Linked DNA regions of Homo sapiens: region 2 is linked to region 1. The links come from fine-mapping of genetic effects on gene expression. A gene starts in region 1. The other region holds a variant in brackets. All regions are shown on one strand. Distances are between the middles of the regions. Region 1 holds the start of EIF2A (eukaryotic translation initiation factor 2A). Region 2 overlaps ERICH6 (glutamate rich 6).

Region 1 (15,908 bases):
ATAAGAAAGGCAAGATAAATGCTTGACTCCTTCCCTTTATTTATCAATTTTCAAAGTAATGAGTGAGGACTCCATCAACCACCAATGCTGACCAGTTAGGTTTAAACGGAGGGGGGATTTTTCGGGGGAGCATTTATATACTTGACATGCTTTATCTTTCTATTCATAATTCTTAATGTTCCCATCTTAGGTTGGTGTGAATCTCTTCAAGTTGCTTCCTACGACCCTTTAACAAAATCTCATTAGTCTTTTATAGCTTTGCTTTCTGGCACAAAAGTTGCTACCTCAACTTGTACATTTTCTGTCCCAGACCTAGAGTTGACCACTTCTCCAAGGAAGTGGTTCCTTTTAGTGAAGAATTGTATTTAGAGATCACAATCTGTGAGGATGGGGTATTCACTGCTACTGTGTTATCACTGCTTCCAGGCCTTTTCATTGGCCAGAACTAGGAAATGCAAATGTTTTATGAAAGGAAATCATGAGTTCATACTGATATAGGCAAGTCTATCTTTTCACTCTAATGCTGAAAAATCTTGGTGCCTAACAACATTAATACAATTAATTTACTCTATCCTATAGTAGATTCAAATGACAATATCAACTTTCAGTTAAAAAGAAAACTATTAGGCCAGGCATGGTGGCTCACGTCTGTAATCCCAGCACTTTGGGAGGATGAGACAGGTGGATCACCTGAGGTCAGGAGTTTGAGACTAGCCTGGCCAACACGGTGAAACTCTGTCACTACTACAAATACAAAAAAATTAGCCAGGCATGGTGGCAGGCACCTGTAATCCCACCTACTTGGGAGGCTGAGGCAGGAGAATCGCTTGAACCTGGGGGGCAGAGGTTGCATTAAGCCGAGATTGCACCACTGCACTCTAGCCTGGGCAACAAGGGCAAAACTCAGTCTCAAAAAAAAAGAATTTTGCAGGTCTTCACATGGTTATGCCACCAACCTGATATAAAGCTAGAATCACTTATTTTAGTTTCCCAATTTTTTTTTTTTTTTTTTTTGAGACGGAGTCTCATCTTTTTGCCCAGGCTGGAGTGCAATGCCCTGATTTTGGCTCACTGCAACCTCCACCTCCGGGTTTCAAGCGATTCTGCTGCATCAGCCTCCCGAGTAGAGTAGCTGGGATTACAGGCGCCTGCCCCCACACCCGGCTAATTTTTGTATTTTTAGCCGAGATGGGGTTTTGCCATGTTGGCCAGGCTGGTCTTGAACTCCTGACCTCAGGTGATCTGGCCTGCCTTGGCCTCCCATAGTGCTGGGATTACAGGCGTGAGCCACCGGGCCCAGCTTTTAATTTAATTTTTAAATTTAAAACAATTATATGGTCCAAAGTCAAAACTATACCAAAGCTCTTTCACAGATGTGTCCCCTGCATCCTGTAACTCTCTCCCCCGCATTCTGTAACTCTCTCCCCCTATAGATAAGCATTTTTAACTAGTTTTTGGTTTACTTGTCCATTGTTTCTTTGGGGAAAAAAAAATTAATCTAGCTAGCTATATACTATGTGCATATATATGTCCTCCCTTTTTAATATCTTTTTCATTATGATTTCACTAAGATTACTGGCCATGATTTGGCTATCAAATTTGCAAGTTTTTCTCATTCCTTAAGATACAACTCTTGTAAAATAAAGGCTTGTATTCAATTACACTAGTGTCTACACTTTTTCTTAGTATTGTTCCCCCTACCTTATAAATAGGCTTAAGTTACTATTTTCAGATCTGAAGATCATTTTCCTTGATAGAGAATATGTATTCTTTTCATCTTCGGTAAATATTATACAATAAAAATGAGTTCATCTGTTCTTTTCCTTTCTTGTTCAAAATACACCACCAACAAAACCATTTTAGATTGTACTGTATGTTCCCTATAACATTACTTAACAAAATAAATCATACCTTGGAAACACTGTGCTTTCTGTAAAATGTGGTGGTCCATTCACCATGTACAGTCCTTCTGATCCTCGGACTAAAGAAGTAAAATAAAAAGAACCACAATTACTTTGTTAATAAAGACTCAGTTAACACAAATGTGTTTTTTAAAAAAGCAGCTTTAGTCAAAATATTAATGAAATCATTAAATATTTCATTGAACTATAGAATATTAGCAACAAAAGGGCATATTTTCTTACTCTGTTACATAAAATCATATAATTGCTGAGAAATACGTAACTTTTTAAATAAAACTCGAAACTTTGTCACCACTGAAAGAAAGGCAGCTGTCTTGTGGTAAAGAGGACATGAATTCAGAGCCTGACCTAAGTTTATAACTGCCTGTGGAACCTTGGATACGTTACCACCTCTGAATCTGTGACCTAATCTGTAAAATGGAAATATCAGAACACAGGATAGCTGTATGCTTTATATAAAGTAATAAAAAAAGTATATGTTTAAAGTTTTTAGAAATATAAGGCAATATTAATATATTCACAATTTATCAAACTAAGAGAACAAGTGGAATGAGACATATTCATTTATTAAGGCCCCAATGACAGTAATAGCCTAAAAAATTAAGTGGAAACAAAGTTCAAGATTAAATAATCATCTACAGAACTAGACTATACTTCTTATTTCTATGTTTAAATTTATTTATTTTTTTGAGACAGGGTCTTGCTGTCACCCAGGCTGGAGTACAGTGGCATGATCAAGGCTCACTGCAACTTCAAACTCCTGGACTTAAGTGATGCTCCTGGCTCAGTTTCCCAAGTAGCTGGGACTACAGGCATGTGCCACCCTGCTTGGCTATTTTTTTTTTTTGTAGAGACAGAGTCTCACTGTTGCCCAGGCTGATCTCTAACTCCTGGGCTAAGGCAATCCTCCCTCCTCAGCCTCACAAAGTGCTGAGATTACAGGTGTGAGCCACCGCACCTAGCCTAGACTATACTTTTTTAAATGGTTGAATTAAATGCTTCTAAAGCTGAACCAAATAAATAGATTCATTTAGTCAACAAATGCTTAGTGGGAAAAAAACGAACAAACTACCTCCTAGGCCCTGTGTTGAACATTGGCGAAATAATAGGAAAGAAAATCAGCCTTGTCTCTGACCTCATTGAACTTTGCAAACAGTAATCAAATAATTGGCCAAATATACGGAATCATATACCTGTGTTTAGTCCTTCAAAGGAAAGGTATATGGTACCACTGAGGGTATAAAAGAGAGTTTTAACCTAAAAATGGAAGGTTAGGGAAAGCATCCTTAAGTGTTTTGTATACTGAGATGTAAAGGATCAATGGCAGTTAACAAGCAAGGAGAACAGTTAACAAGTGCAAAAACCCCATGGAAAGAAAAACGACAGAGCGTCAAGGGGATGGAAAGAAGGCCTGTGTGGCTAGAGGATGATGAAGCTGGAAAACAAAATAGGGCTCAGGCTAGGCGTGGTGGCTCACACCTGTAATCCCAGTACTTTGGGAGGCCGAGGCAGGCAGATGGCTTGAGCCCAGGAATTCAAGACCAGCCTGGGCAACATAGGGAGATGCTGTCTCTACAAAAATTAGCTGGGCACGGTGGCACATGCCTGTAGTCCCAGCTATTCGCACGGCTGAGGCAGGAGGATCACCTGGACTTGGGAAGTCAAGGCCACAGTGAACCATGATCATGTCACCCACCACCAAGCCATGTTAAGTTTTATATTTCTTGTAGAGACGAGGTTTCACTACATTGCCTAGGCTGGTCTTAAACTCCTCAGCTCAAGCAATCCAATCTGCTTCCCTCAGCCTTCCAAAGTGCTGGGATTACAGCTGTAAGCCACCTGGCCCAAACTGACATTTTGTACTTCTAAGATGCCTTGCTAGATTTAATTAGTTTTTCTATTAAATAAATTTAATAAAAGCATATACAGTTTAATTTACTCCTGATAAGCTGTGATACAAAGTTTATTAGAAAAAAACACAAAATCAGGTCCATAACAGAACATAAACTGTTTTAAACTAATAAAAGCAAAAATAAATAGGGACTAAAAAACTTCTCAATACTGAAACAATTTTTTTCTACATGTAACTTTCTAACAAGGAATCCTTTTTAGTTACAAGTATCTGTGAAACTAAATACAATGCGTAGTTAGCTTAATATAGTGTATTCTGAGTTTGTGTGATTCCCTGTTTTTAGTGATTTCCCTCTTCAATCAAATGGGATTGGCAATATGTTCTAGCAGAAAGAAAAATCTAGAATGCAAGCAGTTCTTTTAAGACAACAAATAAACGCCAGTTTCACACAGTAGCTGTGTGAAATACATTAAACATCTACATAATCTTTTCCAAGCTTACTAGCCTTTTTAGACATTCATATACTATTTATTGCTCTAGGCCTGAGTTAGAGAGAGAAAAACACAGGGCTTCAATAAACAAGGATCCCATGGCAGGGGTGTAGTCATCTTTAAAATACGATACTTTTCCCAACTCTTACATTCACTGAACTATGTATTAGTTTAGGAAAATCACTCAATTTTGAATAAATTATCTCTGTGACTTCAACTGGTCAAGCAGATTAGACAATGTGAATTTCACGTAATGGACATTGCTGTTTTATGTGCCTAGCAACCAGCTCCTCTTCTTTAGGAGGCGCTCATTTTCTTTTGAGGAGTATCGAGGAGTGGGAAGATAATTTAGTCCTGACTACATGATTAAAAGTTGACTGATACAAAGGTGAGCCAAGCAAAGTCAAAGGCAGCTAGCCTTGAGATTTTTGCTGAGACTACTGGCAAAAATGTGTTCTTTCCTTTGGAGCTGGGCATTTGGTTGAATGTCAGTTTAAAGATGAATTTAATCTGGAGGAAAGCAAGAACCTACAGATGAAGAAAAACAGATTTCTGGCCAGGCATGGTGGCTCACACCTGTAATCCCAGCACTTTGGGAGGCAGAGGCGTGTGGCTCACCCGAGGACAGGCGTTCAAGACCAACCTGACCAACTTGGTGAAACCCCAACTCTACTAAAAATACAAAATTAGCTGGGCGTGGTGGTGCACGCCTGTAATCCCAGCTACTCAGGAGGCTGAGGCAGAAGAATTGCTTGCACTTGGGAGGTGGAGGTTGCAGCGAGCCAAGATCGCGCCATTGCACTCCAGCCTGGGCAACAAGAGCGAAACTATCTCAAAAAAAAAAAAAAAGAAAGAAAGAAAGAAAGAAAAACAGATTTCTGAAGCCATGTGAGTATCTGGATCTAGCAGTACTGAGGCTTTTAGGTTATACGAGTTTAAAAAAAAAAATCCCTTTTTCACCTGCTTTGGCTTGTCACTCCCAATTAAGAGTTGGGGTTAACAAAATTTACTGGCTAATCTGCAAATTATTCACAGCTCTAAAATCCCACGAGTCTAAATTTAACAAAAGATTTTGGAAGTAAAATAATCTATTGTTGAATGAAATATGTACACTGAGAATGTTTAAAAGATTAAACAGTTTGTTCTAGTGAAAGAAAAATGGACCACAGAGTTGAACAATCTGAATAAGTATAATCCTAATCCTGCCAATTTGCAGTGTGAATCGGACCACTTAATCTCTCTGGGCCTCTAAGAATATGAGAATATGAAGAGTAGACTGAACAGACAACATTTAAGCTCTTACAAAGTCCCTGATTTTAAGCACTGTAAGACAATTGTCATCCTTGGTTAATTTACTATAAAGTGGCTATCCTTCATTAATTTAAAAGGATAGTCTAAACAGACAAATCTAATCTAGATCTCTTGTATGCACAGTTCAAAATAGGGTTTGCGCTCTTATGAGGCTCTAATGCCCCCACTGATCTGACAGGAGGGGAAGCTCAAGTGGTAATGCTTGCCCAGTACCAGTCCGGCCCAGGGGGTTGGGGACCCCTGATTTAGAGTATCTATTGTCTACCAGGCACTGCACTAGTACTGAGAAGACAGATATGAATAAGACCCTGTCGCTGACATTGAAGGACTCACAGTCTAGCAGGGGAGAAAGGCAAGTGAATGTCTAATTATCCTACTTAGTAAGTGAAATAAAATTTCAAATATATTTCAGGTACAAAAATAGCCCAGGAAGTGACTGACTCTATCTGGGTAGAGTGACGAAAGGCTTCACAGAGCAATGATATCTAAAATGAATTTTAATTTCAACAGATGAAAAAGAGTTTGCCAAATCAACAAGAGGCATAGGATAGTACTAGACTGAAGAAACAGGTTGTTCAAAGGGACTCAGAAGCAGTTCAGTATTGATGGAGCACCAAATAAGATGGGATGGCAAGGAAATAAATGAGTCTCAAGAGCAATTCAAAGATTATAAATGGTTACATAACTATGCTACATAGGATGGAATCTACCCTGTAAGCAGAGAGGAACTACCTACTGTAGGCATTTTTAAAGGAGGGGTTATTTATCAGATTTTAGAATGTAATTTTTTCATTAGAGTTCAAATAAGCATTTAGTATTAAAAATTGTGAATAACAAGCTACCTTTACAAACCTAAAAAAAAATTTATTATGTAACTTTGCCTTTTAAACAGTCTTTGCCTGGTATATTATCTAGAAGATTATACTCGGCGTTTGATAAATGATGACTAAACTGCAGAAGACAGACTGAGCATCAGTGGGCATGGCGCTTAATAACAAAGATTTTAAAATGTAAAAATAGAAATGTAGACTGGCAAAAAGTGCAAAAATGTTTTAAGGTTCCTTTCGCGGGGGGGAAGGGAGGGAATAGCCTCCCTCCTTAAATGCAGACAACCTTTCTCTTAATGACTTTTTCCTTCTATATAGTTATCAGAACTTAACCAAAACCTTCTTTTCCTTCCCGACTCTCTTTTCCTTACGTAATACTCATATGCAGACTCTTAGCCACACCCTAGTAAAGCAACTTCCCCAGCATTTTCCAATCTAAGTTTATTATCTCCTCCAACACTACAGTCTTTAGCTTCAAAATTTCAAGAGTCCTCTAATGTTCTATTTCTAATATGCTCATAACCATTTCAAAATCAAATGTTGCTAGAATATCTCTATCATGCTCACTGCTACACCCTCTCCCAACCACACCTTCATCATTTGAAACCTGCATTACAGCTCCACTCTCCCTATTCAGTCCTACAAACCTCATTAAGGCAGGAAGGCCAGAATCTGGAATTACTTAAGTCCAGGTGTATTTAAAGTGCGTGATCATTCTAGAGGACTAACTCATGTTTGTCTTTGTTCTTATTGTAGACCTAAATGACTTCACAAGGGCCCGTGTAACACCAGTATTGCAGACCCATGTGTCACAAATTCAACTAGCACATTGTTTTTCTCCCCCTTCTTCTATTTCTGTAGAAGATGAATCCGCAGGCAAGAATGATGGATGGGTGAAAGGGAGGGGGAATACGAAAGCCCAGAGGCGGAGACTTCACTTCCGATTGCCACGCTATATCAAGAAAGCCAACAGTCTGGCCTTTCCGCAAGCCACAAGAAAAGGCAGATCAGACTCCCCGGCTCCTCGGGTAGTTCTCAAAGGCAAAGACAAAAATAAGAAACTAGTCTGAAGAAAGAGAGTCCCTCGCTTCTTCAGAACTCACCTGTCAAGAGCGGCGTGGACGGCGCCATGTTGTCCCGGAAAGAGAAACCGCTCGGGTGAGAGTTCACCAGGGCCGAACCCGGCCCCTACACGTCTCCTCATGCGTGGAGACAGCGAATTGGTGTTTCCGGAGCCATCAGCCTCGGGGCCAATTCACTTCCGGTTACGGAGTGACGCGGAAAAGGCGCCCAAACGCGCACGCGCAAATCTAGGGCGACGCTTGACAGAGCTTGGGAGGGTGCGCCTGCTTTCGCCCTCCTTCTCCAGCGGGAGGGGCGCGCACTTCCGCGGGGCGGAGTCCGTCTAGTGCTGACGTTGGCAGCCGAACCCAAAGTAGATCGAGGCGGCGGGCTGCACATTCCCGTTGTTGCGTTGCGTTTCCTTCCTCTTTCACTCCGCGCTCACGGCGGCGGCCAAAGCGGCGGCGACGGCGGCGCGAGAACGACCCGGCGGCCAGTTCTCTTCCTCCTGCGCACCTGCCCCGCTCGGTCAGTCAGTCGGCGGCCGGCGCCCGGCTTGTGCTCAGACCTCGCGCTTGCGGCGCCCAGGCCCAGCGGCCGTAGCTAGCGTCTGGCCTGAGAACCTCGGCGCTCCGGCGGCGCGGGCACCACGAGCCGAGCCTCGCAGCGGCTCCAGAGGAGGCAGGCGAGTGAGCGAGTCCGAGGGGTGGCCGGGGCAGGTGGTGGCGCCGCGAAGATGGTCGCCAAGCAAAGGATCCGTATGGCCAACGAGAAGCACAGCAAGAACATCACCCAGCGCGGCAACGTCGCCAAGACCTCGGTAAGGAAAGAGCGGGCGCCCCTCTGCGTTCCGCAGCCGGAGCTGAGTCCGGGTCCCTGGGGCCGCGTCGCGTTTTCTCCCGGATCCGGCCGACCGTGGGCTGGTGCCGTGGAGGGGTAGGGGCCCGAGTCTGCGAACCGCCAGACTGTGGGGGCTCGGGAACGGAAGGGGAGACCTGTGAGGTGAGGGGGCCGGCGACCGGCGTGCAGGCGTGGGAGCCTGGGGTCCGAGTGGTTTCTCTGCATCTGAAATGGTGGATTTTCGCTTTTGCAGAGAAATGCCCCCGAAGAGAAGGCGTCTGTAGGACCCTGGTTATTGGCTCTCTTCATTTTTGTTGTCTGTGGTTCTGGTAAGTGGCTTGGGGGCTCCCATCAGGTAGAGTCTTGGGTTGAAAGGATTTGGGATGACGTGGTGACCGGTCAGTAGTGAGTCCTACCTGCGTAGTTCTCAACCCACCTGCCGAGGACTCCACATAATTCTGTTTCGTCTGAACCAAATTACTTGTTCCACATATGCACAGAGGGTGGTGCTCCAGAAACTTCTCCCAGCTTAATTTGTACTCACAGGAGATCAAAAAGGAGGTCAGGTCTTGGTAATGATCCAGTTGGAATAAATGTTAAGACCGGACAAAACCTAACGAAATGAGAATTTAGAATGTTTTGTAACTCCATTATCAGTCTTTGCAAAGAAAATTATAAATATGTACTATAGATGTTAGAACTTGATTTAACATATACCAGAATCTAATGTCTTAATGTCAAAATTGAGTATATTTTATAAAATAAAGCTTGTGCAAAGAATTGATTCACTATAGAGGAAATTACCTGATTGGCATTTTAATGTGTGAGTCAAATGTTTTTAGGTTAATAAAAGAAACGTTTGATACATGGTTTAAAAAAAAAGTGTCGGGGTAGCCTGCTGTCCCCTAAGAGTAACAGACACTTGCCTTTGCAAATAGATTACAAAAAAAAGGTCTTTCCTCTCTTCATTTATCATTTTAATATGCAAGCTGTTAATATTGAAGTAGATGTTTGTTTTCCACATTCTAAAATTACTGAGATTTCTGTTTAACGTTTCACTTTGCCTTTCTTCTTCACTTACCAATTGGAAGCTTTCCTGATAAATGGATGAGAGCCAAGCAGTTTATATAACCTGAAGATGATTGAATTTCAGCTTTGTGAGAATGAGGAAACATGCATGTGTTACAGGCCAGGCCTTAAAAGGATGCTTATAAACCAAAATAATTCTATGCTGGAAAAACCTGTTGGCTTTGGTGCTTTAAGTTCTTTGTAAAATGATTACTTATCTGCAAGTTCTCTTGGATACTTAGACATAAAGTTCAGCGAAGCTAAGATAAAAAAATAACTCAGGGATATTTCATTGTTTTATTTATTCAGACAGGCCTGTCTTCACTTCTTATTATACTGAAGTTATGTACCATTTGCAAATGTAAGAGTACCTTTGGATTCTTCAGCTACCTTAATAAATATTTGTTAGACACCAGACCTATTTTATTCAAAGCTTATTTTAATATTTGCTCTTTCTTTTTACAGCAATTTTCCAGATTATTCAAAGTATCAGGATGGGCATGTGAAGTGACTGACCTTAAGATGTTTCCATTCTCCTGTGAATTTTAACTTGAACTCATTCCTGATGTTTGATACCCTGGTTGAAAACAATTCAGTAAAGCATCCTGCCTCAGAATGACTTTCCTATCATGCTTCATGTGTCATTCCAAGGTTTCTTCATGAGTCATTCCAAGTTTTCTAGTCCATACCACAGTGCCTTGCAAAAAACACCACATGAATAAAGCAATAAAATTTGATTGTTAAGATACAGTAGTGGACCCTACTTATTCAGTCAATTAAGAGTAAGTTTTTTTATGTGGTTATTAAAACAGTATGAACAATTAGTCTAACTCTGCATAGACAGGGTCTAGATTTTGTTAACCCAAATGTATAACTGCAGTTAGCTTAAATTACAATTTGAAGTCTTGTGGTTTTTATATAGCTAGGCACTTTATTACTCTTTTGAACTGAAAGCACACTCCCTTATAGGTTCATGTAACTGTCCTGTAATAAGGTGCTTATAAATGGAACAACTACACAGCCTAGTTTTGCCACAACCTTTAGCATCTAAAAAGTTTTAAAAGCTTCTAAATGTCTAATATAAAGGGAGATGCTTATAGCCACAACATCTATTTTACCAATATTGTTTCCATTACACTACCTTGGATTTTGCATGAGTGAGTATAGTAACCCAAGATGCCATAAAAAAAAAACTTGATCGTTTTCTGACTTAATCAGTTACTGTGGTTTCACTAAAAGCTACCGTGGTGGAGTGAAGTCAGTCAGGGAAGGTTTGTTTATGTTACATTTATTTCACCAGAACTATTTTAATATATCAAAGGGGTTTACTATGCCAAACAAAATTCTAGGGAAAAATACTGCTAAAAATGGATGCCTCATCAGAACATGCTGTTGAGTCCAATGTGCCATAAGACATTTTAGCATGTTAAATAGCACTTTTAATAGCAAAAAAAGGCACATCAACTGCGAAGTTATCCTTAGTTTGCAAATGCTTTTTCTAGATTAATGATTTTTCAATCATTAGGGTACTAGACACATCAGCCTAAAGTGGCATCTGGAATTGAATGGATTTACTGATAATGATCAGTCTTTAGTCTTCCCTTTGTTATATGACTTTATAGGTTATGATTGATCAAATTTACGTTTTACTAATGGTAAGGGTGAGGGTCATAGGGCAGGTTTTGGGTTTTCTAGTACTGTTGAAAACTGCAAGTATTGGCTATTTGTATACTTAGCCATAACTTGGTGAAAAAAAACCTGAGCAGTGTCTATGTATTAATGCGTTGGAAAGAAAGCTGCTTGTGTTTGCTTTGTTAATTGCCTCAGGATATTTCTTTTAAAATAAGCTGTTTTAAGAGGAACAGAAGGGAAATCTGCTACCTAGTCTATACACAGCGTGAACCTCACAGGGGGCTTCTGATACCCTCAAACATGGAGAACAGTAAGGGAGCAGAGTGGTTAAGGACTTTCAGGAACTTAACTATTCTGGAATAAGGAATGAATCAACTGACCTTGGGCCAGCAGGTTTTTAACTAAATTGTTACTTGCCTTTCTCACCCAGTTAATCAGTCTCTGTACTTGTTTCCCTTTTTGAAACAAGTGTCTTGGTTAACTAATTCTGTTTTATGGTTGTGCTAAATTCATAGCAGGTGCCTTATTCTTTGCTTTTAGTCAAACCATTCCATATCAGAATTTTCCTTGGTTTACTATAGATATTTGGCTTTAAGTTGTTGTTTGTGTTTTTTAATGTACAATGTTCTGATAAATTTGACTGTTAAATTGCTATAGCTAGCAATCATTTTACATATGTAAAATTGCATTCCCTTTGTATTTCATGTGTAATTCACCAATTAAGTGCAGTTTATATTCAGGTTGGATTATGCATGTTTAGGTAAACGAAAGCTGTGTCTTACTTGATTTATTCTTTAAAAATAAAGTTCCCTGAATATTTGATGCTTTTCTTCTAAACGGAAATGATTTTACAGTTATCTGAGTGTACCTTTTATAGTTAGTAGAAAATGATTTTAAAGAATGTTTAGTATTGTACTTAAATGGTATGCAGAGGCACAGATGTAAGGTTTATAACTGGAAATAGGTGGTAAGAAAAATATATAGAAAGCACAATGATTTGAATATTTTTCCACTTAGGATTTCCTAATCTCCTTGTCATCCAATTCAAGCTCAAGATGAAGCACAATTCTTTGATCTCCCTTTGCCAGTTGAATTTTATAGATCATCTAATGTTGAGCACAGTATGAGAATAAATATTGGGGTTGTCAACATTACTCAGTTACTCTTTGTGGTTTAACTCTAACATTTCAACAAGTTGTCAATTAATTGTATCTGTTGGGTTGTATATAATGTTGCTCAAAATAATTAAGTGGACTTCCAAAAATAAGATTTCCATTGTAACAGGATGCATTGTGATGGGCTTTGACTTACATTAAAGAAATGTGGATAGTCAACTGCAGGGCCATGACTCTTCTCACTGAGGTTACTGGAGTTCTGTTGGTACAAAGGACAACCATGGAGAGCTGGATTATGTTCCTGGGCTTAGTAGGTTCACCAGCAAAACTTTATTATGCTTCATTTGTGAAACTTAGAGCATCAGATTCTCCATTTAGAAATTGTTCTTAAGTTTGATTTGCCTTTACTTGCCTTTGTAGTTTTTAAATTTATTTTTTAGATGCAAACCGTAACTTCAAGAGGTAGGAGTTGATTGGCTTCAACAGCAAACTCTATGGCACTCCCTCAGAGAAGCATTTCCTGTCTAAACTTACTTAGTACCACAGTAGCTACTTGTACTACTTTATTTTCAAATTGAATTAGGACACATGTCCTTATTTAGAAAGAGGATTAATGAGCAATAAAAGGCTAGAAATTAAGGGAAAAATTAACTGCCTAGGCTTAGGTAATTCAAAGTAAATATATATCACAGAAACAAAGAAGGGACATGGAAAATTTAATCCAACTGCTTCAATTCGCAGATTAACAAAAACATGCATTTTAGTCAGTGAACAACTTATATGCCAGGTATGGAACTGTGAATACATAGTCCTGACACTGAAATATCTCAGACCAGTAGAGAAGGAACAGACAAAATGAAAGCATAACTACAATTGTAATAAGTATGTCAAAGGACAAGTAAAGCCAGATAAATTTTTTTTGTTGTTTTTTGTTTTTTTCAATCACAGAGCTAATTGGGGGAGAGCAGAAACGAACCAAAGTTTCTTGTACTTTATGGTAATAGGAATGATTGCAAAACTTACACTTAGAACACTTCTGTTTTCACGAGCTCTTTGCTTCTGCTTTTACAGAAATTCTTTAATTTTTTTTTAATTGCCAATTCGAAGGAAAAAGGAATCTGTCCTTTTATGGGTGCATTTAAAAAAAACTAGTGACAAATTTACTAGTGGTGCTCCCTGTACAGCACAAAAATGCAAGGGCTAGTAATGTTACCACTGTGATACATTTAAGGTTACATTTTTAAAAATTATTTTGCTAGAGTTTTTAATAATTTTTCATCTGGGCCAGGCGCGGTGCCTCACACTTGTAATCCCAGCACTTTGGGAGGCCGAGGCGGGTGGATCACCTCAAATCAGGAGTTCGAGACCAGCTTGGCCAACATGGTGAAACCCAGTCTCTACTAAAAATACAATATTAGCCGGGTGTGCTGGCGCATGCCTGTGATCCCAGCTACTTGGGAGGCTGAGGCAGGAGAATATCTTGAACCTGGGAGGCGGAGGTTGCAGTGTGCCAGGATTGCAGCATTGCTCTCCAGCCTGGGCAACAAGAGTAGAAACTCCATCTCAAAAAAAAAAAAATTAAAAAATTTTTAATCTGTGTTGTTGAAAAGTGTAAAATAAATAATTTTATTTTGTTTTTAATTTTTTAAAAAATAGAGGTGGGGTCTTGCTATGTTGCCCAGGCTACTCTTAAACTCCTAGGCTCAAGTGATCCTCCTGTCTCAGCCTCCCAACGTGCTGAGATGACAGGCAAGAGGCACCATGCCTGGCCAAAATAAAAATTTTTAATAGGCAGTCCAGTAGTCCGAAAAATGAAGCAATGTGCTCCCCAGAGATACTTTTTATAACAAAGGGTTTAATGAAGATTTTCCAGTGTGCAGATTTCTACTTTGCAGTGCAGATAGAATACATCTGTGTATTTAAATTATTAAAACATTACAGTATCATTACATGGACTAACAACAAATTTTTATTTTCTAACAGTGTGTTATGGAGAAAGCCTGCCAAACGGAGAATGAGAATAGTTTACTTTGAACTGAAATAATTGATTTAGGAGCTTTAGAAATGATCTTGATTGGGCCTTTTATTTTACATTTGAGGACATATGGCCTAGAGATACTGTCCTTCCTAACACCAATAAAGCAATGGCAGAGCAAGGATTAGAAAACTGGTTTTGTAATGATGAAATTGGCACTTAGTATGTTGAATGTCAAGGAATTATGATGCTTTAAGCATGTCTCCTCTATTTTTTTTAGCAATTTAAAACTTTTATATTAAGAATGTAATGTTTTCCTTTTACCTTTGAAGATTATGTATTAATCTAACGAAACTCAATGAGTTCTCCATGGTGGTAAAATCTGAACATTTATTAACCTCAAATGGCTTTCCACCGCCATTGGGAAGAAATAATTCTTTTTGCCTTGGTTTTCAGGAGGCTTCACAACCTACCTATCAGCCTTGTCCCCCACAGCTTCCCTCCATAGAACTGTTCTAGCCCTGATTTTTCAGATACCTTGAACTTAAGGTTGTTTTGCCCACTTTTCCTGCGTTACAATACTACCTACCCTTTCCAGCTTTAATTTCACCTCTCCTGTAAAGCTTTCTCTTGATGTGGGATTCAGGAAGACTCTCTTTGGGACTTACAGCTCTGGACCAGTTAGCTTTATTACATTCACATGTTTATTATTTTTGTTTCTTAGTTTCTCAGACATGGAATCCTTAAGGACAAAGGCCATATCTTTTCTTTATTTCTTCATCTACCGTCATCACTCCCTTGGCTAGTACAGAGCTTTACACATATAGTGGGAGTTCAACATATTAGTTGAGTGATAAAGTGAAAAAGATCGATGAATGCCTTATATCAGAATAATCTTTAAGAAGCAGGTCTTTTTGTAAAATCCCCTAACCCTGGTATAACAGTCGTCCCAACTACTTCCAAGCTTGGTGACCTCTGGTTGATGACTGGGCTCAGCACCAGAATTCAGTTTCTTTACCCTTTAAACAAACTCCTCCAGGATAGGCTTGATATTTGGAAGTACTTCAACAGTGTGATATTTGTCTTTCAGTTGTATTTGAGAACGGTTCATAATGTGGCATTGAGAAAACAAAAAAGCACTTTATCAAAGAAAGCTGACACTTTACCACACTGGTCAGTCCGGTTATAAGGAAAGAGTCAAACAGCCATACTTGCTGTTAGAGCAGGTGCTTGTGGGCTGTCAGCTGCCCTCTGTCTCAGCCCCATCCTAGGGTATAGGACGGTACAAGGACACCACACCAGTGCACCCTTCTCTGTGCCAGACCCATGCAAACCAGGCGAGTATACTCCAAACCAAATCCAGTCCCTGAGTAGAGGTAGCTTGTTCTCACAGAGGAATTCCCCACTGCAAGTCCACACCATTTTGACTATCATTTAGGATGTGGTGTGGCTGCCAAACCAAGTCTCACATTGGGCAAAGGAGACTCCAGCACCCTTTTGGGAAAGTGTCATCCATGGAGCCACACAGAGCACCCTACTCAGCACATTTAGCTTCTGGCACCCAGAAGTGCCATGAGACCAGGGTAAACCACCAAGACGCTGCAACTTTGTTTTCTGTTTGACATGTGAGCACCAATAAACGCACAACTGCAGATCCTAAAGCACAAATACATTCGGGATTGAGATAGATTGTAATTGCAGATAAAGCCTAAATCATAAAGGTGATTTTACAGTGGGAGTATCCAAGCATGTTTCTGCCTAGCTCCAGCCCTAGTTACTGGTGCACAATCTGCCTGTTAATTACTCGTGGATT
Region 2 (15,908 bases), 120 kb before region 1:
CAGTAAACCCAGGTGACTGGCAGAAGTAAATCCAAACTATCTTTGGAGGACGGTCACTAATTCCACCTTCAAATCACACCTACAAATTATTTTTCAAGTTCAGTTACCAGCACACAGTGAAAAATAACCAAGAACACAAGAAAACTTAACAATACAACTAAAAATCTAGAGGAATAATATCTAATAAGAAGAGACCTGAAAAGACTTTGGAAAATGAGGAAGTCTAACCGTGATCATGAAAATAAAAGATCAGCTTGAAGATATATGAAGGGAACAGAAAACTATAAACTGACATAGCAAATTTGAAATGGAAAAAAATGAACTGAAATGAAAATGAAAACTGCAACAGCTGAAATGAAAAATACAACAATCAAAATTAAAAACTTAAAAGATGAAAGCTGAGAGCAGGTTAGACTCCACTAAAGAAAGAACTACTGCCCAGGAAGAAAGGTTGAAAAGAAAAAATATCAAAACTCATTATGGGGATTAAAAAAGGCAAGAAACACAAGAGAGAGTGTATGGAACAAAAATAAAAAGAAAGGTCTAACGTGCATTTGTTCAAAATCCCAGAAGAAGAGAAAAAAAGATAATCAGGTAGAGGTAATATTTTAAAAGATAATGGATGATAATTTTTCAAAACTGATAAAAGAGACCAATCAACAGGTTTAAGAATCCCAGTGATCTCAAGCAGTATGAGAAAAAAAAAAAATTCTAGACACATCATAGTGAAACTGCAGAAAACCAAAGACCAAAAAAAAAAAAAAGGAAAGAAAGAAAGAATTATTAGAAGTAGCAGAGGAAAAAAAGTTCAGGTTACATTTAAAAGAAAACAATTAGATTAGCAGATGACCTCCCAACAGCAACAATAGAGGCTCAAAGGCAATGGAATGTCTTCAGTGTGGTAAAAAAAAAAAACAATGGCCAATCTAGAATTCTATACCCAGTTAAAATATATTTCAAGAAAGTGTAAGCTAGGTCAGGTGCAGTGGCTTACACCTGTAATCCCAGCCCTCTAGGAGACCAAAGCAGGCAGACCACCTAAGGTAGGGAGTTTGAGACCAGCCTGGCCAACATGGTGAAACCCCATCTCTACTAAAAATACAAAGATTAGCCAGGCGTGGTGGCACATGCCTGTAATCCCAGCTACTCAGGAGGCTGAGGCAGGAAAATCACTTGAACCCAGGGGGTGGAAGTTGCAGTGAGCTGAGATCTTACCACTGCACAGCAGCCTGGGCAACAGAGCAAGACTCTTGTCTCAAAAAAAAAAGTGTGAGATAAAGATAAGAGGATCACTTTATAAAATAAAGATAAAGATGATCACTTTTTAATTGACAAAATTTCAATCCACCAGTAAGATATAGCATTACAAAATACATTGTCCATATTAGCACAGCCTCAAAAATATGTGAAGCAAAATTTCACAGAAGTAAAAGGAGAAATAAAGAAAACCATATTCATAATGAGATATTTTAGCCTACCTCTTATTTTTTTTGAGACAGTCTTGCTCTGTTGCCCAGGCTGGAGTTCAGTAGCATGATCTCGGCTCACTGCAACCTCTGCTTCCCAGGTTCAAGCAATTCACTTGCCTCAGCCTCCCAAGTATCTGGGATTACAGGCGTGTGCCACCACGCCCAACTAATTTTTCTATGTTTAGTGAAGACAGGGTTTCACCATGTTGGCCAGGCTGGTCTCGAACTTCTGACCTCAGGTGATCCACCTGCCTCAGCCTCCCAAAGTACTGGGATTATGGGTGTGAGCCACTGCGCCCAGCACTACCTCTTTCAATAATTGACTACTAGACCAAGAAAAAAAAAAAAGGTTGGGGGGCAGTAATGCTATAGAAAATATGAGCAATCCATTTACCAAATTTGACCTAATGTTCATGGATAGGCAGAGGAAATATTTTAAAGATGACACTCTTTGATCATTCTTTCCAGAGTGATCCATAGATCCAGTATAATCTCAGATTCCAGCAAGATTGCATATGTGTGTGTATTGGGGGAAGGGAAGTCTTGACAAGTTGATTCTAAAATGTATGTGGAAATATAAAGAACCTAGAGTAACCAAAACACTCTTGAAGAAGAAGAGGCTGAGGAAAGGAGGATGTGTTCTACCAGAAATTAAGATCTATTACAAAATATAGTAATTAAGGCAGTATAGTATTGGGGCAGGATAAACAAGGAAATCCATATGCATAATAGAGTTCAGAAACAGACTCATGCATGCATGAATATCTGATTTATGATAGCAATGGCACTGCACATTGTGCTGGGGCTGGTTTTTATCTGCTTTTGTTTTGTTCTTTTAGTAACGTGTATAAAGTAAAAAAAAAAAAAAATTAAAATAGATATGTAATGTCAGATTTCTACCAGAAGGATTTTTATCAAGTTATACTTGCAAGGATTAGGGACAATCTGTTAATAATTGCTAAGGGTTGTCTCCTGTTGTTGAAGCAGGGCCAACATTTAAATTAATAATTGATTTGTATGACTGTCTAGTAACCAGCTGATGTCCATTGTTGTCGTACTTACTACTTTATGTCCGAAACAATTAAGTGTCTTTTCTTTTCTGTGGTGTATAGGTTGTCAGGAATGAGCTCTTAGAGAAGCACTACAAACATGGGAGCAAGTTTCTGACTTCATTTCCAGATGGGACAACACAAATATTGTATCCTCTTTCAACAAGTTATTTTTATTAGCTTTATTACTTCAAAAAAAAGAAAGCTCAAGGAAGGAAATACATGGTTGGGTGCAGTGGCTCACACCTGTAATGCCAGCACTTTGGGAGGCTGAGGTGGGCAGATCACTTGAGCTCAGAAGGTTGAGACCAGCCTGGGCAACATGGCAAAACTCCGTCTCCACAAAGTGTTAGCTGGGCGTGATGGCACATGCCTGTAGTCTCAGCTACTCGGGAGACTGAAGTAGAAGGATCATCTGGGCTCAGGAGGTAGAGGCTGCAGTGAACTGAGATTGTGCCACTGCACTCCAGCATGGGCAACGAAGTGGGACCGTGTCTCAGAAAAACAAACAAACAAACAAACAAAACACAGAAAAAGATAAAGATCCAGTGTAATTGAAAAATAGAAATTTTAACTAAAAAGACATAAATAGAAAGATAAAACAAAACTATAAAGGAACTTAGTGTGGTGGCTTACGCTTATAATCCCAGCACTTTGGGAGGCTGAGGCAGGAGGATTACTTGAGCCCAGGGGTTTGAGATCAGCCTGAGCAGCATAGTGAGAGCTCATCTCTACAAAAAATAAGAAAATTAGCCAGGTGTGGTGGTACACACCTTGAAGTCCTGGCTACTCAGGAGGCTGAGGTGAAAGGATTGCTTGAGCCCGAGGGGTCAAGGCTGCAGTGAGCCATCATCATGCCACTGCACTCCAGCCTAAATGACAGAGCAAGACCAAGAAAGAAAGAAAGAGAGAGGAAAGAGAGGAAGAAAGAGAAAGACGGATGGAAGGGAGGGAGGAAGGAAGGAAGGAAGGAAGAAGGAAGGAAGGAAGGAAAAAGGAAGGAAGGAAGGAAGGAGAGACTACCCTCAAATTCTACCACCCAAAGAAAAGATGTTAGCATTTTATTACTATTGTTTTTTTAAGACAGGGTCTCACTGTGAGGCCCGGGTTAGAGTGCAGTGGCACAATTATGACCCACTGCAACCTCAACCTCCTGGGTTCAAGCAGTCCCCCCAACTCAGCATCCTAAGTAGCTGGGACCACAGGCATGCACCACTACACCTGGCTAATTTTTTAAATTTTGGTAGAGATGGGGTCTCTCTATGTTGCCCAGGCTGGTCTTGAACTCCTGGGTGCAAGCGATCCTCCCACCCCAGTCTCCCAAATGGCTGAGATTACAGGTGTGAGCCACTGTGTCTGGCCAGCATTTAAAAATATATGTTTTTTTGGCTATTCTGAACACAATTCCTATGGAGTAGCCCTGCTCCACGAAGAGCAATTAAAAAAAAAAAGAAAAGAGAAAAATAAAAAAAGAAAAAGAAAAATATATGGTTTTTGTTTGTTTGTTTGTTTTTTGAGACATAGTCTCACCTAGGCTGTAGTGCAGTAGTGGGATCTTGGCTCACTGCAACCTCCACCTCCCAGGTTCAAGCAATTTTCCTGCCTCAGCCTCCCGAGTAGCTGGGATTACAGGCACATGCCACCACGCCCAGCTAATTTTTGTATTTTTAGTAGAGACAGGGTTTCGCTATGTTGCCAAGGCTGGTCTTGAACTCTTGAATTCAGGTAACCTGCTCACCTTGGCCTCCCAAAGTGCTGGGATTACAGGCATGAGCCACCACACCCGGCCTATGGGGTTTTTTAAAATGTTTTTTCTGTGTATGAGCATATATATATATATGTATATATAAATGGATTCTTTGTTTATTCATATTTTCTGACTCCTTTACATAATGAAATTATACAATAATGTTATAAATATATGATATGCAATAAATATAAAGATACAACACATTTTTTCCCCAAAAAACCATCCACAGGTAGCAACACCGTTTTATAACCACATAGTACTTTATTATATAGATGTACTATAATTCATTTAACCTATCCCCTATTACTGAACAAAAGTGGTTTCACAATTTTTGCTATTATACACAACAGCTAAATAAACAGCTTTGTGCATACTTTGTGGCATAGTTACCACTTATTTTCTTGAATTAAATACCTAGGGGTTGAGGCTGGGCATGGTGACCCATGCCTATAATCCCAGCCCTTTGAGAGGCCACAGTGGGCAGATCGCATGAGCTCAGCAATTTGAGATCAGCCTGGGCAACATGGTGAAAGCCTGTGTCTACAACAAAATACAAAAAATTAGCCAGGTGTTGTGGTGCACACCTGTAGTTACAGCTACCTGGAAGGCTGAGGTGGGAGGATTTTTCTGAGCCAGAGAGGTGGAGGCTGCAGTGAGCTGTGATCGTGCCATTGCACTCTGACCTGGGCAACACAGCAAGACCCTATCTCAAAAAATTAAATAAATAAGTAAATAAATAAATAAACATATAGGGCTAGAAATTCTGGAAGAATAATTTGGACATTTTAAAGCTTTGATAGATTTTGCCATCCCTCCACCCCAGAAAATATATACCAGTTTACACACCCATGAGTGGTGGACAATTTTTAATACCAAAATTAAATATCCATTTCATGGAACACCAAGTTATTGATCACTTGGACTTTCTGCCTGATGGCCAGGTCATTCATTTAATATTTAAACTTTTTGAGCTTTTCAGATCCTCATAATATCTGAGGAAAGTAAAAACAAGAAGCAAAAAAATGAGGAGGCTTTTCATGAACTGAGAGCCTCCCCCTGTAGAAGAAAGTCATTTTTGGTCATCGTTTCGTAAGTGTTTACTTAAACCCCAATAGTAAGCCAGAAAAATGACTTTCACAGAATAGGAAGCATAATGAAGTTTTAGTTCCCTAGACCTTATGAGAGTGTGTAGGTTTTGTTTTAATTACATCAATAAATTTTAAATAATTTACCTGACCTAAAAATTTTTTTAAAGTTTTTAGAGACAGAATCCTATTATGTTGCCTAGGCTGGCCTCAAACTCCTGGGCTCAGGTGACCCTCCCACCTCAGTCTCCCAAGCAGCTGGGACTACAGGCTGTGTCTGTATAAAAACCATATAAAAATATACAGTTTTCCAACTTTTATTATTAATCATTTCATGCCCTGACTTTATTCCTCTTAACTTTCTTGAAGGCTGTGGTTGATTTGCAAAATGATTTAGAATCAATCTTGTGTTTATTTCTGGACTTCTAACCAGCCTGGATATGGAAATGAGTATTAAGAGTTAGTGAATTATCTTCAGTATATTTTATTGCTTTTGATGCTATTGAAAATAGAATTGCTTTCTTAATCTCATTTTTAGAATGTCTACTGTTAGTGTATAGAAATACAATTTATTTTTGTATATTGATCTTGTAGCTTACAACCCTGCTGAACTCATTTATCGGGTTTAATACATTATCTTATGAATTCCTTAGGATTTTCTATATACAAGAACATGTCATCTGCTAATAGGTACAGTTTTACTTCCCTTTCCAATCTGGATGCTTTTCATTTCCTTTTTTTTTTCCCTAAACTTCCATGGCTAGAACTTTTTTTTTTTTTTTTTTTTTGAGATGGAGTCTTGCCCTGTCACCCAGGCTAGAGTGCAGTGGCACGATCTTGGCTCACTGCAACCTCCGCCTCCCAGGTTCAAGCAATTCTCCTGCCTCAGCCTCCTGAGTAGCTGGGACTACAGGTGCACACCACCATGCCTGGCTATTTTTGTAATTTTAGTAGAGATGGGGTTTCACCATGTTGGCAAGGATGATCTCAATCTCCTGACCTCATGATCCACCCGCCTCAGCCTCCCCAAGTGCTGAGATTACAGGTGTGAGCCACCACGCCCAGCCAGAACATCTATTAATAGTGCGATGTTGAATAGAAGTAGTAAGAGTGGACATTTTTGTTTAGTTTCTGATCTTAGGAAGAAAGCACTAAATCTTTCACCATTAAGTATAGTTTTAATTGTGGGTTTTTTTAAATTAAAAAAATCAAAATTCTGAAGATGAAAAAAATTGTTTTGTAGAGACAGGGTCTTACCATATTGCCCAGGCTGGTCTGGAACTCCTGGGCTTCAACAATCCTCCTGCCTTGGCCTCCGTAAGTGCTGGGATTATGGGCATGAGCCACCATGCCCAGCCCAGCTGTGGGCTTTTTGTAGATACTCTTTATCAGGTTGAGGACATTCATTCCTATTTGAAATCCATTGAGTTTTCTTATTATTAAGAGGGCTGAAACTTGTCAAATGCTTTTTCTGTGTCTGTTGAGATGACCTTGTGTTTTTTGCTCTTTATTAATATGGTATATTAAGTTATTTTCAGATGTTAAACCAACCTTGCATATCTGGGGTAAACCCTACTTCATCATGGTGCGTAATCCTTTTTATATTGTGACAGTTCATTTGCAAGATTTTGTTGAGGATTTTTGCATCTCATGAGTATATTCTGATCCACATAAAAAGCATAAAATCTTTTGTATTAATATAGTACCTCCCATTTTCAGAATGCTTTATGATTTCAGAGTGCTCTCTCATAAATTGAATTTGTTCCCAGAATAGTCAAGGAGCATTAGAACAATTTATATGACCTTATCTGATCTCAGCTATCCATCTGGAAACCTAGCCATCATTCGAGTGCCCAACAAGGTAAATGGTTTTACTTGTATAGTCCAAGAAGATATGCCCACTAACCCTGCTATCCTAGCAGTGCTGGATTCCTCTGGCAGAAGTTCCTGCTATCATCCCAATGGAAATGTCTGGTAAGCTTCTAGGTTCCTGCTGCTGCCATTTTGTGGCTTTTGTTCTGGGAAATTTTGTTTTTTCTTTTTAAATGATAAGAATGGGTTTCAGAAGATTTATTTAAGTTAGTGTTCTTTAGATGGTAATGTTCAACTCAGAGACATTTTTGGTTTACACCATTCCGTATGCTTTTCAGTGGAAAAATCCCAAGCAATTATAAAAATAAAGCTCATCATATTATTTCTATACATAGTAAGAATATATGAACTATATAATTACAACATACAAAAAAACTTGATAAATGATATGGTAACTCTAGGGATTTGGGATGTAACTGAGGCAGTCTCTAGAGCCTGTGCCCTGATGATGTTATTCTGCTTCATCTATGTAAACAACTTGTCAATAGACAGTTGATACACTATGTTGTTATTGTTTGAGATACATTCCTAACTAGTAAGCTTCCTATAGCCACAAGCAAGAAGAGTAACATACACACAAAATCTCCAGAGAAATTAAGATCCTGGTCCCAATTTAACCTACTATGTATATACTCTGTGACTTCATTTAGCCTGACAAAGTGAAATTTGGGTTCTAACTTCCAATACAATTTAAACTTTTTGAACTTTTCAGAAAGAGGTCTTTTCCTTTAAGTTATATACAGGTATAACAATCTCATCTC[G/A]GGAACCTCTGCCAGTAATTGGTGAAGTTTATATACTGCTAGTCCTTCAGAAAGTTAGGATACCGAGCTATTTGTGTTTTTCGTCCACAGCAGTAGTCAATTCATTACCACCATGTATATTGGAAACTTTCTACTTATCTTTCAGGATTCTACAGCAATTCTATGTTACCTTTGATGCAGTGCTATACTGTCACCAATATTCGTTGGTTTCTAGACTGGAAACCAATCGGTTCTTCCAGATTGGTTTTATGAAGCCCCTGCCCCATAAACTGAACTCCGAGGCACCCTGAGATGGCTCCTTGATACTCTCATAGCCCTCTCTGCCTCTTGTGTAGTGAGTCCATTTCCCTTACTTGACAGACATTCCTTGAGGGCACATCCTGAATCTTTGCTACTACATAGCAGCACATCTGTACATAGTGTAGACTCAAAGAATGTTTACTAAATAAACAAGGGACTGATTTAGCCAGATAATTTTAGCTGGATATTATTTTCACCCAGATTTCAAGATAAAACTAAATCTTCCCTTCCTAGACACAATCAGATAATCACCTCAGTTTCTCATTTGTGCTTTTGTTATTAGATTACTACCACTGATCAATACTGGGTCCAATTTAACCTACTATGTATATACTCTGTAACTTCATATTATTTCATTTAGCCTGACAAAGTGAAATTTGGGTTCTAACTTCAAATACAATTTAAACTTTTTGAACTTTTTAGAAAGAGGTCTTTTCCTTTAAGTTATATACAGGTATAACAATAACATCTCTAACATGAGATGTTAGCTAGGGGTCCCCATGGCCAAGTCATCTAGTTTTCAAAAAATAATTTATTATCAAATTAAGCCAACTTTCTGAGTACCCAGAACACTATATCTACTGTCTCTCCTCAAGGTGGGGATGGTAAGAGGGTATGAGAAGGAGATAACTGAATAGAATGGCACAGCGATTAGTGCTGCCAGATCTCAGATGGTGAGGGGCTAAACGTGATGTAGTAAAATGTAAGGCATTCATGGTCTGAAGAGATGGGGTCGCCTCGTGGGTCTAAGGTCCACCTTTGCTCTGTCACAGACCTCTTCTCCACTGCAGTGATCACAGAGGTGTTCCCTGAGCCTCTGCCCCCACATTCAGCCATGATGGGAGGACTCCTGGAAGGACTCCTAGCTCCTAGTTGGGAATTGCCAGAAAACAGCTCTCTTGTACTGAGGTCAACACAGCCTTCCCCAGAATTTACAGCCACAGGTCTTTATTTCGGTGTGGTGAAAATCTAAGCACTGGTCTTTCCTCCTCTTTCAGGATTAATCTACTCTTCTGTATCTCATTTTCTCCAGACTAAGCCTTCCCTGCTCCCTCTTCAACCTTCCAGACTCCTTCATCCCAGGCTGATCCTTTGGACCCATTTTAGTTTATCAGTATGAACTCAAACAGGATACAGTACTTCAGATTCGTGTAGAATTTAGTCATAGTATTATCACTCCTAAGATTACCTGAAGTTTCCACCACTCCTGCTAATCGCTGGCATAAACCGTTACTCCCCTTGGTTAGCAAGTGACAGGGATAATTCCAGTATTTAATTACAGTGTTACTGTTTATGATATTTACATTTCCTTCCTGACCAGGGTATACATCAATATCTTGGGAGGTCAATATTCAGATCAAGCCGGCAACAGAATAAGGGCTTGGAATTGGTCAAATTCCATCACTTCCTCACCCTTTGTTTCATTTAAACCTGTCTTTCTGGCTTTGAACCGTTATATTGGAGTCCGCATCTTAGAACAAGACAAGATTTCTATAACTTTTCTAGCAATGGGCCAACAGGCAAGAATCAGTGTTGGAACCAAAGTGAAGGTAGGTACATTTTTAAAAACAGTTTAAAGCATTTAGAATAATAATAAGAGTAAACTAACTTTTGTTAGTATTATTACTGATAGATTACACTAGTGCATAATCTACTGTCCACTAGGATTTTGGAATTCAATGGAAAAACATGTAATGAAAGCTTCATATGGAATTGAGGTGGCTTTACTGTTTCTTACTCTGAAATTCCTTTTAGTTCAGACTCAGATCCAAGTAACACTTATTGAGTGTTTGCTCTGTGCCAGAGTAGTGCTGCTCTGGGGGTTTAGTTTAAAGATTTCGTATTGTGTTTGTTTTTCTCCCCGCCATGGTAGAGAGACTTGGGTTGGGTCAGGAGACCTGAGTTTGAATCATGTTCAAGACCAATCATAAGCCCTGTCTCCTTAGAGACACTTCCCAGACCTCCTAGTCCTTCACCCAGTCAGCCTCAACCACATCCTTCTGTGGGTTTTCTGTGTACTTGCCACCATCCCCGTGCTTGTTGAACAGTGCTGCCGTTCCTACTGGATGGCAAGCTCCTGACAGGAAGAATCTCTATCTTGTTGACTTCTGTAACTCCAGTGCCTCTCCCAGGGCACAGCCCTGAGTACACTCTCAGTGACCGGCAATAATGCACGATGGTTAAGAACGTGGAATTCAGGTTGCAGATTCTCTGTAGTTTCAAACCTCAGCTCTGCCACTTGACTGAGTGAGCTTGAACTTCAGTTTCCTTATCCATAAAATGGAATAATGATTCCGACCTTACAGATTGCTGTGAAGATTTGATGAGAATGCAAAGTACTAAGGGTGGTACTTGGCACTAAATAAAATAATATAGACATAGAGATGGATACAAATAGAGATGGATGTATAGCTATATACATAAATAACACATATAGTGTGTGACTTTGAACAGGTCCCTTAAACTTTAAGGACCTTTGTGTCATTGATTTTTTTTTTTTTTTTTTTTTGAGATGGAGCCTTGCTCTGTCTTCCAGGCTGGAGTACAGTGGCGCGATCTCAGCTCACTGCAACCTCCACCTCCCAGGTTCAAGCAATTCTTCCTGCCTCACCGTCCTGAGTAGCTGGGACTACAGGCGCCCACCACCATGCCCGGCTAATTTTTGTATTTTTAGTAGAGACAGGGTTTCACCATGTTGGCCAGGCTGGTCTCGAACTCCTGACCTCAGGTAATCCACCTGCCTCAACCTCTGAAAGTGCAGAGATTCCAGGCATGAGCCACCACTCCCGGCCTGTTTCGTCGATTTTTTTTTTTTTTTTTTGAGATGGAGTCTCTCTCCGTCGCCAGGCTGGAGTGCAGTGGTGCGAGCTTGGCTCACTGCAACCTCCGCCTCCCGGGTTCAAGCGATTCTCCTGTCTCAGCCTCCCAAATAGCTGGGACTACAGGCACACCACCATGTAAGGCCTGTTTCATTGATTTTTAAAGGAAGACATAGCTCCAAACTTCAAAAGTGCCTTCAACTTTTAAGTATGTGGAAATAGAATCTCAATATTCAACACAGGAAGGAATATCTCATGACCACCAAACAAAGGGGAGATTTCAAATTCAGGCAACATAGAGCGAGGGTCTACAATGTGCTAAGCACTTTTCCAGTTCCTTTCAGTAAGTCTGGAAACTGCAGTCAAATTTTTAGGCTCCAGACAAACTTCTTTCTTGGTTAGAAATCTGCAGTATCCCCTCCTTTTGTTACATTACATCCATAGTAAATACATTCTTACACAAAATATAAAAATACTTCTTTCTCCCCTCTCTCTCTCCCTCTACTTCCTTCCCCCACCCCTGCACCTCCCTTCCTCTCCCCACTTAGAAATTAATTTTAATCAAAAAAGAGTCATTTTGATGCAAAAGGAAGAGTTCATTATTAAAGTTTTTTACTTTTCTCATTGTTCTCATAATCACCCTTTAGGTTTTTTTTTTAATTACAAGCAACTTGTGAATATATTTTTATATTTAAAGATTTAAAGATTCAAACAATACAGAAATAAAGATAATTTTTTAAAAAATGAGATTCCCTTTATTTCTTCTTCTATTCTAACTCCCTTCCCCAAAGTAAGCACCACACAAAATTTAGTGTGTACCTTCCTTCTTACTATGTATTTATAAATTATTTTATACATCTTTTTTTTTTTTCAGATGGAGTCTCGCTCTGTTGCCCAGACTGGAGTGCAGTGGAGTGATCTTGGCTCACTGCAACCTCCACCTCCCGGGTTCAAGCGATTCTCATGCCTCAGCCTCCTGAGTAGCTGGGGCTCAGGCGTGCACCACCACACTCAGTTAATTTTGTATTTTTAGTAGAGGCGGGGTTTCACCATGTTGGCCAGGCTGGTGTCGAACTCCTGACCTCAGGTGATCTGCCTACCTGGGCCTCCCAAAATGCCGAGATTATAGGCGTGAGCCACCGTGCCCAGCCTATTTTATACATCTTTTTTAAAACATAAAAATTAGATAATATACAGATTATATTGTTGATGGGGGTTCCTATTTGTTTTTGTTTCCCACTTAGTAAGTATTGAAGATTTATTTGTGTCTACATTTTGAAGAATATTGAATTCAATATAAATATTAAATTTATATGAAATTTAATGACTTCTCAGTGGCATTAAACACTGATGATCTCTTCTTCCTGGAATCATTTCTTCCCTTGCTTCCAAGACTATTCTCCCCTGATTTTCCCTGTACCTCACAGGCTGTTTCTTCTCATTTTTCTGGCCTGATTACTCTTCATCTCCCCTTTTTCTAAATATTGGAGGAACCCAGAGCTTGTCCTTGGGTGGTCTTTTCTCTATATTCACTCCTCAGATTATCTCAGATAATCTCATTATCTGATTATATTATCAGATTATCTCATTGAGTCTCACTTCCTTAAATATCATCTGCATGCTGATAGCCCTTTAATTTGTATCTTCAGGTAGATCTCCTATGAACTTGAGACTTGCAAGTCTCTGATTCCAATTCAACATACCCATCTGGATTTCTAAGGGGGCATGAAAAAAAACACAGGCCAGGCGCGGTGGCTTATGCCTGTAATCCCAGCACTTTGGGAGGCTGTGACGGGAGCATTACTTGAGCCCAGGAGTGTGAGACCAGCTTGGGCAACATAGTGAGACCCGATCTCTATGAAAGTCGTTTTTTAAATTCTCCAGACATGGTGGCGCATGCCTGTGGTCTCAGCTATCTGGGAGGCTGAGGTGAAAGGATAACTTGAGCCCACCATTGGCGGGGTGGGGGCAGGGGGTTCAAGGCTGCATGAGCCGTGATTGTGCTGCTGCACTCCAGCCTGGGCAACAGAGCAAGACCCTGTTAGGAAAAAAAGAAAAAACTTAACACAGCAGAACTTGATTTCAACACTTGATCCAGTCTCAGTCCTCTCCATCTCAGAAAATGGCAACTACATTCTTTCACTTATTCAGGACAAAAACTCGGGAGTAGTTTCACAACTCTAAACGCTGTTTCACAGTCCCATACCAACTCATCTGTAAACTCTACCTCCAAAATACCTCCAGAGTCTCACACTTCTCACATTTTCCAGTGCTATCATTCTTGTCTGCCTCTTTACCTGATCCATCTCTTGCTTGATTATTGCAATAGCCTCCTAATAAGTCTCCCTGCTTCTGGCCTTCCCAAAGTCTATTCTAACACAATACTTAGAATGATACTTTGAAAACGTAAGTCTGGTCAGAACTCTCCGGGGACTTCTAATTTTACTCGAGTAAAAGCCAAGGCCCTATAAAGACTTGCAATGCTGTACACAATCTGGACCTCTTTCTCTGAATAATCTCTCTGTATTATCTTATCTCACTCATTCTGTTCCAGCCATACTGGCCTTTTTGCTATTCCTTGAAAATATCAGGCATGTTCCTGTCACAGAGTCTTTGCATTTGCTGTCGCCTCAACCTAAAATGTTTTATCCCCATTTAGCATGTGGCTGTTCCCTCACTTCCTTCAGGCTTCTGCGCAGCGTCCTTTTCTGAGCAACCCATCAAAACCAGCCACACCCACCCCCACCTTCTCCCTAGCACTCTGAGTGCCTCTTTGGTCATTTGCCACACGTTTTAATATATAGTGCTGTCATTTTCTTTCACTTCTAAATAATTTAGAATACCCATTTTGACTTCAATGCAGTAGTCACTGAATTTTCAAATAGATAGAAAGATTTACCCCTCTCTTGTTAATTTCAAAATGGTCAGGAAATATGACTTGCAGTTTTTTCCTTCCTGTTTAGAATATATTGATATTTTCTTTGTGGTTGGTTACATAATTTTTATAAGTGTTCCATGTATATTTAACCAAAAAAGTTGTACAGTTTATTGGTACAAAATTCTATGTCCAGTTGTTCTAGCCACACCTCCCTCTCTATCCTTTTATTTTTGTGTCATTGGGTTTACTTCTGAGAAATGTATGAAAGTTTCCCAAAATGGTTGTGAACTTGTTCATTGTTTCTAGTATTTCAATCAACTTTTGCCGTATATATTTTGAAGCTCTGTGATCAGGAAATTAAAGATGCTGACTCTCTTCTTTGTGAGTTGTACCTTTCGCCAGGGCCAGCCCATTCTTTCCCCTCACTCATTCGCTCTTCAGTTGTTCCCATTACGCGCCCTAGTGTATTAGTGAGGGTTTTGTTTTTATTTTGACAATAAAGGTAGTAATGTTATCAACATGTGTTATTCCTAATTTCCCTTTTAGTGGCCTTTACCTTAAGTGCTATTCCATCTGATGTTAAATTCTTACACTTGCTTTCTCTTTGTTAGCGTTTGTTTGATATTTTTTCATCCTTTGATTTTCAACCTTTTTAATGTAGTTTTGAGTTATATGTTCTCGGGCAAACCACATATAGTTGGATTGTGTTCCTTTCCTCAACCTAGCAGACTCAGTGGTTTTTTTGTTTGTTTGTTTTTAGAGACAGGGTTTTGCTCTGTCACCCAGGCTGGAGTGTAGTGGCGTGACCATAGCTCACTGTAACTGAAAACTCCTGGGTTCAAGCCATCATCCTGCCTCAGCCTCCCAAGTAGCTAGGACTACAGGCATGCACCACCATGCCCAGCTAACAGACTCAGTCTTTTAATACACTATATTTTAATGGTTAGTTTAAAATTAACATATCTTTTATAATATGCATAGAATTAACTTCCAAATCCTCTAGTTGTTTTTCTTCCTTAACAATATTCTCTCAAGTCCCTCGGAAAATATTAACTATATAAATATGGATATATTTCCTAAAGTCTTCCTCTATCTCCTAATTATTTTTCCTTGAGTATAAGTTTCTCTGATAGGTAAATCTGGTGCCTCTCTTTAGTGGCGTCAAATATTCGGTGATTCTCAGTTGTGTGTTCAATTTGAATTTGAGAATTCCTGTTTCCCTGTTCTGCTTACTAAAGTTTGCTTCAGATGCTAAGGGGTAGAAGGCTAGCGCTAGTGCCCGCTGCCAGCCTCAGCCTGTGGGCATCAGTGCTCAACACAAAAAGGAAAAGGTGAGGGGCCTGCCTCCCAATTGATCAGCCTAATGTTTACCTCAGACTCCATCCTGCTTCCCATTTCTGTTGAGTTTGAGCTCAGAGTATATGTGTTTTTGGTTAGTGGTTTCATTTCGTCATTTCTCTCTATATGCATATGGTCTCATCTGCTTTTTGATTTTTCAGGAATTCCTTAAAATTATCCTGCCGATGAAATCTTTCTTATTCCAACCCCGCTGGAAACAAGGTGGGGGCAGGGGGATAAATCTTTCTTATTAGAGCCATCATTGACTTAATCTGTAAAAAAGTTTTCTGTCATGGTGTGATATTTGGGGTAAAAGATTCTGAACTATTCTTTGTTATTTGTCCATCTCATACTCTTTCCTTCCTCTATTCCTTCCTTTCTATGGAAGGAGGAGTGAAATACAGAAATGATACTGTAAGTATCACCTTTGCAGGTAAGTGGTCACTTAGCTTGCAGAGGGTAGTAGTTCTGCTTGCATTTAACCTGCCCCAGAGAGGCTAAATGCCCCTTCTAGGCTGGCTTTGAAGCTACAGACTGAAAACACTTCAGGCAAGACTGTCCTGGCAAATCCATTTAGGCTTCTGCAG

The links.
Region 2: its variant is fine-mapped to the expression of EIF2A in whole blood (INTERVAL, PIP above 0.99).

Annotation. Positions count from the first base shown.
Region 1 is chr3:150,538,429-150,554,336 of GRCh38, reverse strand. EIF2A (eukaryotic translation initiation factor 2A) reads right to left here and starts at 7,550. Exons shown (of 14, transcript NM_032025.5): 1 at 7,507-7,550; 2 at 1,912-1,981. The coding sequence starts at 7,534. SERP1 (stress associated endoplasmic reticulum protein 1) reads left to right here and starts at 7,841. Exons shown (of 3, transcript NM_014445.4): 1 at 7,841-8,285; 2 at 8,559-8,634; 3 at 9,839-12,339. The coding sequence starts at 8,202. The coding sequence ends at 9,879. RefSeq lists enhancers at 7,243-7,782, 7,055-8,254, 7,700-8,330.
Region 2 is chr3:150,660,715-150,676,622 of GRCh38, reverse strand. It overlaps ERICH6 (glutamate rich 6), which reads left to right. Exons shown (of 14, transcript NM_152394.5): 11 at 2,582-2,667; 12 at 7,172-7,327; 13 at 9,608-9,836. Among named protein-coding and RNA genes, the nearest start is that of ERICH6-AS1, 35 kb to the left of the region's middle. The variant G/A (reference allele first, on the strand shown) is at 7,987.